2 separate regions of the Homo sapiens genome follow, and region 1 is linked to region 2. Evidence: fine-mapped QTL for protein levels in blood plasma. A gene starts in region 2. The other region holds a variant in brackets. All regions are shown on one strand. Distances are from middle to middle.

Region 1 (5,000 bases), 370 kb before region 2:
AGATGAGCTCGTTGCCTGGCCAACATGGTGAAGTCCCCTCTCTACTAAAAATGCAAAAATTAGCTGAGCATGGTGGCATGCACCTGTAATCCCAGTTACTCAGGAGGTGTAATCCCAGTTACCTGGGAGGTGGAGGTTGCAGTGAGCCAAGACTGCGCCACTGCACTCCAGCCTGGGCAACAGAAAGAGACTCTATCTCAAAAAAAAAAGAGAGAGAGAGAGATAGGAAATCCAATTAGATGACTACTGCAAAATTTCAGGCTAAAAAACAAACCAAAAGGTGTGGGTTTGAACTAGGTCAGTGGGAATGGGGATGAAGTGAGGGAGGATACTACTGATGTTAAGGAGATGACAACAATTCTTTTTCAAGATTAATTAGGTGTCAATGAATGAGGGAAAAAGAGGAGTTGATGACTCAGGTTTTGACTTTTTTTTTTTTTTTTTTTTTTTTTTTTTTGAGATGGAGTCTGTCTCCCAGGCTGGAGTGCAGTGGCATGATCTTGGCTCACTGTAACCTCCGCCACCTGGGTTCTAGTGATTCTCCTGACTCAGCCTCCAGAGTAGCTGGGACTACAGGTGCATGCCCAGCTAATTTTTGTATTTTCGGTAGAGACAGGGTTTCACCATGTTGGACAGGCTGGTCTCGAACTCCTAAAAAAAAAAAAATTCAGTCTCCACAGGCGGCTTTAGCTTTTAGGTGCATGGTGAGTTCAACTATAAATTATTCAGGAAATGAGAAATTATAGGAGTAACAGGTTTGGGGTAAAGATAATGACTTCACCTTTAAATGCTGAATTTCAGGTATACTTGGGACTGAGCTATCTGGAGGCAGTTGAATACACAATCCTGAAGTGCAGGAGAGAGGTATGGACTAAAGACGTGTGTGTCTCCTATTCTGAGTGATTATATAGACAGAAAAGAGGAGGGCTTTTTTTAAATTTTTTTTTTAGTTTATTCTCAATTGCAGGTGTTTCCCCTTGCTGGCAGAGTTCCTTTAAGTCTTGACAATAAAAAGGGCATTCTTGTTGTCCACCCTTGTAGGATGCATGTCTGGGCCAATCAATAAAAAGAAAAGACTTGTGGTGTCTGATTTGTTCTGCTTCAGGTTTCCCAAATAGCCTAGCTATAACAACAGTGCTGAGTTCATGAGAAAAGCTGACTCATATTTCCTGCAAGTCAGCACAGATATCCATCCTTCCAAAGAATTTGAACCTCTGGCCACTCCCAAAGACAATCAAAGTATTGCAACAATTTATGAGCATCTCTTTCTTTTGTTAGCTCTATTATAAAGATGCAAAGTAAAAACAAACAAACAAACACACCTTTCCTTCCTTGTACCACCCTCAGCCCCGTTCCCCAAACAACGATGTCCTTATCCTTCAGAGAAAGTCCAGTTTCTCTCAGGGTTGGTCCAAATGCCATCTATTTTGTCTATTTTGTCACCTTCAATTCTCACAATGAGAATTAATCACTCCACTCGCTTGGGCTCCCATAGCAACGAGTTTATCCATCTAGCATAGAATTTGTCATAGTTTGACTTTTACTAAAGTTATATGCCTAGGAAATACTTTTTGCCTCTAATGTGTGCTTATCTGTCATTGCTTTCCTTCTGTGCCTAGTGCAGTGTTTTGTATACAAATGTTTTCTGAAGTGAATTTGTTAAAAGTTATGAAAATATTGTCTACCACTTCAAGAAAGTCAGAGGAGTATACTTCGTGGTCAATGACAGTTAAAATACATATTTTTAAAACAACTCCCCTGCAGATAATTTAAGAAGTAAAAATTCAACTTATAAGGAATTGCTGAAAGAGGTAAAATTGTTAATTTGAGGAAAATGTTGAGAAGTGATCATTTTCAGAAATTTGAAAAAGTGCTGAGTCAAAGATATGACTCCTCAGATGGCTACCAAAACGGCAGAGACAGCAATGGCTCAGACTGCTACAGCTCTCCTGTCCTTGGCCACTCTTCTCAAGCACCAGGTTTAGAATTTATATTTCTTTTTTTTTTTTTTTT[TG/G]AGATAGGATCTTGCTCTGTCACCCAGGCCAGAATACTGGGGTGGGATCTTAGCTCATCGCAGCTTTGAACTCCTGGGTTCAAGCAGTCTTCCCAACTCAGCCTCCCAAGTAGCTGGGACTACAGGCATGTGCCACCATGTCTGTTTTTTGTTTGTTTGTTTTTGTTTTTTTTTTGTAGAGATGAGGTCTTGATATGTTGCCCAGGCTGGTTTCAAACTCCTGGGCTCAAGTGATTCTCCCACCTCGGCATCTCAAAGTGCTGGTATTGCAGGCATGAGCCACCATGCCCAGCCAGAATTTCAGAATTTGTCACTTCTAACATGACTTTTCTTACTATTATTCTTGAAAATTGTTCAGATAATTTCTTTTTTCTTTTTTTTTTTTTTTGCAACCTCTGCCTCCTGGGCTCAAGTGATCCTCCCACCTCAGCCTCCCAAGTAGCTGGGACTACAGGCATGCATGCACCACCATCATGGGCTAATTTTTGTATTTTGGTAGAGATGGGGTTTTGCTATGTTGCCCAGGCTGGCAGATAATTTCTTTCAAAAATAATTTCATCAGGTTTGTGTTTTTAAGAAACAAATGGATAATTTGACCACATTGCTAATAAATTTTAGTTTTTGGATTAAATACATTGGAATGTCACTCAAACACTGTTTCACAGTGAATACAATTTGTCAATATGGATTCTGCTTTGTGACACATCTAAATAGTTTCTAATAGGCCATAGATCCCTGGTAGTTTTTCTCACCCATAAGGAAGCCCTGTAGCATAGCTATCAAGGACTGCTTTATGGGCCGGGTGTGGTGGCTCATGGCTGTAACCCCAACACTTTGAGAGACTGAGGAGAGCGGATCACCTGAGGTCAGGAGTTCGAGACCAGCCTGGCCAACATGGTGAAACCCCCATCTCTGCTAAAAATACAAAAATTAGCCAGGCGTAGTGGAGGGCGCCTATAATCCCAGCTACCCGGGAAGCAGGAGAATCGCTTGAACCCAGAAGGTAGAGGTTGCAGTGCGCCAAGATCACGCCACTGCACTCCAGCCTGGGCGACAGAGCAAGACTCTGTCTTAAAAAAAAAGGATTGCTCTCTAGAGGCTCCAGGTTTTCATTTAAAGATGTGAGAAACTTCTGGTATAGCAATTAAGGTGCATAGATTCAACAGGTGGAGAGGATTAGGCTGTACAACAGCTTGCGCTTCCATTGCTTTAAATGGTTATTGGTTTCATAGTTTTCCTTCATGCATCATTCAAATCACAGCATTTTAAAATAACTTCTAAGAAATAGCCGGATACAGTTCAACATATAAAATATGACAATTTCAGAAATGGCATGGGGCCAAAATTTATTATCCAAAAAATTCTATTTGGCTCATGTCTACATTGTTAGAATCCCTTGCCCAAATCACATCTAGGGTTTAGGTTTAACTGTGACTATAGTCACATATGCCTGGAGTGTTGAGAGGACTCCTGATATGACTGTTAAGGGGGGCTCTGAGGTACGATACTTCCTGGGTACACAGTCAAATGCTGCGTATTGGTTTTCTACTGTTTATCAATATTGTTCTTTAAGAAGCTATTTTCTCTGATTAAAAAAACCTTCACGCCTTTTAAACTTTTGAAAGGTTTTAGAATCTCATTGTGTATGCTACATGCAACTATATAACATTTTAATTGGTACTCTGTAGATGAAAATATTTGTGTGTATATATATATATATATGCACATATACATGTATAACCAACTAAAAGAGTGCTTTTGCTGCTAGTGGAATATTTTGATATGCCAAGCTACTCCTTAAAGAGGAATTGACCTGATACGTCTAGCAACACTTAAAACTAATGAAAGGCTAAATCTGTGTCCAATGGGTAAAGAATTGGGAGGGTTCCCAACTGGACTTTAAAAAAAGCTTTTTAAGGTAGGGCACAATGGCTCATGCCTGTAAACCCAGCACTATGGGAGGCTGAGGTGGGTGGATCACTTGACCCCAGGAATTCAAGACCGGCCTTAGGCAACATAGTGAGACATAGTCTCTACAAAAAACAGAAAAATTTGCTGGGTGTGGTGGTGGGCACCTGCAGTCCCAGCTACTCCAGAGGCTGAGGTGGGAGGATCAATTGAGCCTGGGAGGGAGGCTGTAGTAAGCCGTGATCAGGCCACTGCACTCCAGCCTGGGCAACATAGCAAGACTCTGTGTCAAAAACAAGTCTTTTTTTACAGCTTTAACTGACATACAGAGGACTACATATATTTAAAGTATGCAACTCGATTGTTTTGTTTTGTTTTAAAGCAAAATCTTGCTCTGTCACCCAGGCTGGAGTGCAGTGGCACAATCTCGGCTCACTGCAGCCTCCGGCTCTGGGGCTCAAGCGATCCTCCCACCTCAGCCTCTCAAGTAGCTGGGACCACAGGCGCACGCCACCACGCCCGGCTAATTTTTTGTATTTTTGGTGGAGACAGGGTTCTCGCCATTTTGCCAGGCTAGTCTTGAACTTCTGAGCTCAAGCTGACCCTCTTGCCTCGGCCTCCCTAAGCGTTGGGATTACAGGCATGAGCAAAGGCGCCTGGCCTCAGTTATTTTTCTAACCTTTATAGCATGTTTCCCCTTAAAATGTGCTTAAGTACTTTTTTATTGTCCCTCTTCTCCCACTAAACTGCAGTTTCCTGAAGGCAAAGGTTTTCTGTTTCCCTCACCACTGTGCACCCTCTGTATGGATGTTTGTTGACTGAATGAATGAATACAATGAAAGAACTGGAGGTAGGAAATAAAGTTGTAAACTTGGTTAGTAAAAGGCTATGCAATTTAGGAAAAGTTGACTTTAAAGCAGAGGGATTTTGGGGGTCCTGTTTCTTCTTTCATTTGTCCATGGAATAATGTCTAACATTTATTGAGTACTTTCAAGCACTATACTAAGTACTTCACAGGTACTATAGAATTTAACTCCCGAGCAACCCCATGGGGGTAATCAAGCTTTATTAACCTCAT
Region 2 (5,471 bases):
TCCAAGGCAGGTGGATCACTTGAGGTCAGGAGTTCGAGACCAGCCTGACCAAATGATGAAACCCCGTCTCTATTAAAAGTACAAAAAGTTAGCTGGGCATGTAGTCCTAGCTACTTGAGAGGCTGAGACCCAAGAATCACTTGAACCCAGGAGGCGGAGGTTGCAGTGAGCCACTGCCCTCCAGCCTGGGGGACAGAGTAAGACTCTGTCTCAAAAAAAAAAAAAAAAGAAGAGAAAAAGAAAGAAAATAAAATAAAAAAGAAAGTGACAGTTAAAGACAAGAATAGACAGCAGGGAAGGAGGATAGGAAGAGTAGGGGGTGAGGCTGTGAGAAAGCCTTTATGGTATCCAGTATGAGGGAACAGATCTCTAGACTTGCACTGGCCGGACAAAGGTCTTGAGGCTGGAGGGGAGGAGGCTGCCCGCGATCAAGTTACAGCAAGGAGGATGGTGTGGCTGGAGAGGTGGTGAGCACAGGGGGTGGTGTCGAAGGGGAGGTCAGAGAGGTAGAGCAAGCCTACAGATCAGATAGGCCTTGTGGGTCACAATAAGGACTTTGGCTTTTGCTCTGACATAGGAGCCGCTGGTGGGTTTCTAGCAGAGAAGTGGCATGATCTCATTTTAACAGGAGCACTCTGGCTGCTGTATTGAGAAAACACTCAAGGAGGACAAGGACAGAAAAAGATCAGTGAGGAGTTTGCTGTGACAATCCAGGTGAGAGGCGACGGGTCTTGGACCAAGGCCACAGTGAGAAAGTGGAGGGTGAAGCATCTGAACATGAAGAGTAGGAGATGACTCTACATTTTTTTTTAATAGAAATGGGGGTCTCGCTATGCTGGCCAGGTTGGTCTTGAACTCCTGGCCTCAAGCGATCCTCCCACCTCGGCCTCCCAAAGTGCTGGGATTACAGGCGTAAGCCACCAAGCCTGGCCTCTACATTTTTGACCTGGGCAACAGGAAAGGAACTGAGATGAGGAAGACTGTGGGAGGAGAAAGATTGATAGAAAAGATCAGGATGAGTTTGTCTACTAGACAGCTAAAGGAACTGGGGCCTGGATGGCTGGATACAGAAGTCCAGGGTTCAGGAAAGATGGTCTAGGCTGAAAGTATACATTTGGGCATCATTAGCATAAAGATGCTCTTTAAAGCCTTGAGGACCAGATGAGATCACTAAGGGAAGCAAGTGTTTCAAGGAAGAGGGAGTGATTCACTAAGTCAAATGCTGCTGATAGGGCAAGTGAAGATGGGGCGTGGCAATGAATGAATAAACGCCAGGCCTGTTAGATATGCAAAGCGCCAGTGATTATTGAGGGTTAACTGACAACAGACAGGTGTAGAGACAAGATGGCTCTAAGTCACAGGAACACTTAGAGACACAGGGAAGGGAAGAACTATGGCATCTTGGAGTTGGAAAGGACCTTAACTAGGTCATTGAATCTGTACTCTTTTCCCCACCCTAGCCTGACAATTGAACCCTTGGCTGTAGAACAAGAAATATTTGCGGGATACTGAGGCAAACAGTCTGGCTAGGTAGGTTAGAGAAAGTACCGTTGAAGAATGAGAAAAAGGGTACTTCAGTAAATGCTGGACAGCAGAGGCAGGGTGAGGGAGTGGAGATGACCTTCCGAAGTCAGAAAACCAAGGTTCAGGTCCTGTATCTGCTGCTCCCTAGCCTCCTGTCCTTGGGCAAGTCACTTCACCTTCTCCAGCCTCAGTTTCCCCATGCGGCGACATCTGAATATGGTAGTGCTTGAAGGTAGTGTAAAAGTGTCCTGCCTGTGTTAGTTACTGCCAGAGCAAGGGAAGGAGGCCAAGAGAAGCCCTTGGTTTGGGATGGCAGATAGGACTATCAAGATCTCCGCAGGTGGGCTGGCGCAACGTGTGGAGAAGCGAACCAGCATTCAGGCCAGGACCTGGGCTGGAATGGACTGGGCTCGGGTGGCAAGGGGGCCATCTGGACAAAGACCGTGGCCCTGAATCTGCCTCCCCTGAGCCTGGAACGGAGGTGGAGACCCCGAGGCAGCAACAGGGAGAAGAAATAGAGACGCTGAGGCAGAGAGACCAGAAGACTCAGAGACGGGGAGACTAAGAGACAGACCCAGCAACAGGCGGCCTCACGGGGGCCCGCGGCGACCCGGAGAGGGCGAGGCACCGGGACACAGACCCGGGCCGAGAGGAGCCCCCGCGAGGCGCAGGGCCGTGGCGCGCGGGCGCAGGGTCCCCGGCGGGGCCAGGGTGGCCACACTCGCCGGGCGCCCCCTCCCGGGCCGCTCGCCCAAGATGGCGATGGAGGGGCGGGTGAGGCGGCAGCGGCCCTGGCCCCCGCGCCGGCCCCAGCTCGGGCCCGGGCCCCCGAGGCCGCGCCCCCGCCCGCGGCGCCGCGCCTCCCCGGGCCACTGACGCCCGGCGCGCTCTCCCCCCGCGGCGGCGGCCGAAGCACGGGGAGGCGGCGGCGGCGGCGGCGGCCCGAGCCCAGCCCCATGGCGCGGGGGGACGCCGGCCGCGGCCGCGGGCTCCTCGCGTTGACCTTCTGCCTGTTGGCCGCGCGCGGTAAGGGCGGGCGCCCGGAGAGGCAGGAGCGACTGCGGAGTGCTGGTGCGCCCGCGCCCTGGTCTGCATCGGGCTGCGGGGCTGGCTCAAGCCGGAGTCCCGAGCAAGTGCGGGGGCTGCGCGTCCAGGTGCCCGCGATGCCTGCGCGGGGGTCTGCGAGCTGCGGCCGGGGGGCGTTTGTGGGGCGTGCTTGTCCGCAGTGGGTGTGTGCCTTTGGTTCGCAGAGTCTGGAGTCGTGTGTGTGTGTGTGTGTGTGTGTGTGTGTGTGTGTGTTGGGAGTGCTCCTGTCGTGTCCGCAGTGCGTGCCATGGTCGCGGCGTGGCATCGGCGGGGCGGGTAGCTGCGGTGTCGGTGGCTTTCGCGGGGCGGGCTCTGCCTTGCCTGCGCGTGTCTTGGGTTGAGAGTGTGTGTAAAAGAGGAGGGAACTGGGGTTGTGTCTGCACCTCCATTTGGGTCGGGTGCGTGTGCAATTGTGTTTATGGGGCTGAGCTAATATTTGGCCTTGGCATTTGGGAAGTGTCCTTGCCCATAGTGGGGGACAGAGCGATGGATCCCGTTTGACTGGGGGTGGTGGTGATAAAACAACACTCAACTTTGCCCAGTGGGTGTGGTCCCTGGGGCCGGTTAGAGAGGGGTAGAGGGAGGTGTTGCTCCCCAAAACCTGTGGCCAGCAGTGGACTGGGGGAGGGGGCAGGAAACCATTTGCTTTCGTGGACATGTCCAGCGCTTGTTCTCACGATGGGACGCGTGTCACCCCGGCCCCACCCCCCAGGGACCGACCAGGGAAGCGTGGACGAGGTCAGCAGGGCCTCATCCAGTCCGCAGCCCAGTGCGGAGTGGGTACGGGGTAAGTCAGAGTTGTCCAAGCTGGAGAAAGGGCTGGGGAGGGGATAGCGAAGTCCCCAAGGGTGTGTGTCTAGGGCTGCGGCTTCCACCCACAGCTCTGTCGCTTCCTGTCCGGTGTGCGTTTGGGGGCGGCTCATGGGGAGTGTAGGTGGCAGGGCTGGGAGGGGGATGGGCTGGCCGCTTTGTTCGCCTAGTTCTTGCCTTCCCCGCGGAGGGGGGAGCTGAGGATGTGTCCGGGGAGAGTCGGGGAGGGACTTGGAGGTGGGGGTGGGGAGGGGGATTTCTCTCCAGCTGCTGCGGCTTTCCAGAGAGACTCAGCCAGGCCACGTGGGAGGGAGGCGGGGGGAAGGAGCCTCCGCCTGGCCAGCCCCAGGCCCATCTCCAGGAAAACCAAACAGCGGGTGGGAAAGTGCCGGGAACTCCTCGGACCCCTTCTGTCCCTACAAAGACACGCCCCTTTCCAGCCCCAACAGCGGATTAAGCTGGAGGCCGCCGCGAGGCTGGGTCTCGGCTGCTGGGCCAGAGGAGCTGGAGGCCCTGGCTTGTCAGGTGAAAGGGGCGGGGAAGTGTCAGAGAGAGGTCTGTCTTCCCAGAGCTCAGGGGATTAAGGAATAGTTCCCCTGCCCCACCTTCCGCTATTCCTAGGGCTCCTGGAACGAGCTCAGGGTCACCCAGCTAAACGGCATCAGGGCTGGGAACCGCACCGGCGCATTATTCAATACCTTTAGGACCTGCCGCGAGGGACCCAGCTTCCCTGGCCTCTCCCTGCTCCCGAACGCACAAAGCAGGCGAGGGACCGAGTTGCGGCGTCTCTTGGTTGCAGTGTGAGTGGCTACAACAGCTTGCCCTGGTCCTCCAAATCTCAGCAGGCCGGGGGACACTCCAGTCGAGTCATGACTAGCCACCCTGATCTGTACTGAGGTCATTCATTCGTTCAACAAATATTTATGGAGCACCTTTTATAGGCTAGCTTGTGCCTAGTGCCTAGAATATAGTAAATAAGGAGGCAGACCTGATCCCTGGTGCAAAGCTTTCAGTCTGGTGGAGGGGGAAACTGACAAGTCCCCTGAAGTGCTGGGGAAGACGCAGGAAGGAGGGGCTCCTACACCGATCTGGGAAGGTCAGCAAAAGCTTCCTGAAGAAAGTGATGAGTAGTAGAGCTCGACATGGAGTTAGCCCTGTAGAAGGAGAATGATGATGGGGACAGTTTTCCAGAGAACAGCATGTGCAAAGTTCAGAGGTGATTTAGTTGAGATCATTGGATTAAACTAAATCTAGCTGGAGTTTAGGGACAAGGGGTGGATGGGGGGCAGGTGAGGGAAGCATGGAAAGGGGTCAGGGAGTATCAAGACAGGAGGCTGAAGAGGGGAGCTAGATCCAGCTCACAAAGGGCTTTACAGGGCCCACCAAGGTTTCTGGCCTGAGAGTCCCCATGAGCCCTTGACAGGATTTAAAATCAGCTTTGCATCATCTCATTCCAGCCAGTGTGGAGGATGGATTGGGTGGGGCTGGAGGCAGGAAGCTCCAGCTCCTTCGAGGCTGTTGTAGCAATCCAGAAGAGAGGATGGTGGCAGCTAGCATAGTGGCAGTTGGGGTTGGGCTGGAGTGGCTGCATTCCAGAGATTTTCAGGAAATAGAATCAGTAGAACTTGAGGATAGATTGAATTTGTAGGGGGCGAGAGAGAGGAAAGTAAGAAATAGGCCGGGTGCGGTGGCTCACGCCTGTAATCCCAGCACTTTGGGAGGCCAAGGCGGGCGGATCACGTGAAGTCAGGAGTTCAACACCAGCCTGGCCAACATGGTGAAACCCCATCTCTACTAAAAATACAAAAGTTGGCCAGGTGTGGTGGTGCATGCCTGTAATCCCAGCTACTCGGGAGTCTGAGACTCGAGAATCGTTTGAACCTGGGAGGTGAAGGTTGCAGTGAGCTGAGATCACGCCACTGCACTCCAGCCTGGGCGACAAAGTGAGACTCTGTCTCAAAAAAACAAACACAACAACAACAAAAAAACATGAGGCAGAATGAAGGGCTGGTATTGGGGTTAGGATAATGCCTGTGCCTGCCCATCTCCTC

The links. PIP is the posterior inclusion probability: the model's chance that the variant is causal. Sun 2018 read protein levels with aptamers (SomaScan).
Region 1: its variant is fine-mapped to the plasma level of the IGDCC4 protein (Sun 2018, PIP 0.92).

The regions. Positions count from the first base shown.
Region 1 is chr15:65,792,921-65,797,920 of GRCh38, reverse strand. All of the region lies in intron 1 of LOC105370866 (a long non-coding RNA gene), which reads right to left. Among named protein-coding and RNA genes, the nearest start is that of DENND4A, 3.1 kb to the right of the region's middle. RefSeq lists enhancers at 4,932-5,000, 4,775-5,000. The variant TG/G (reference allele first, on the strand shown) is at 2,014.
Region 2 is chr15:65,419,872-65,425,342 of GRCh38, reverse strand. IGDCC4 (immunoglobulin superfamily DCC subclass member 4) reads left to right here and starts at 2,396. Exons shown (of 20, transcript NM_020962.3): 1 at 2,396-2,550. The coding sequence starts at 2,481. RefSeq lists enhancers at 1,584-2,118, 3,094-3,363, 3,384-3,493.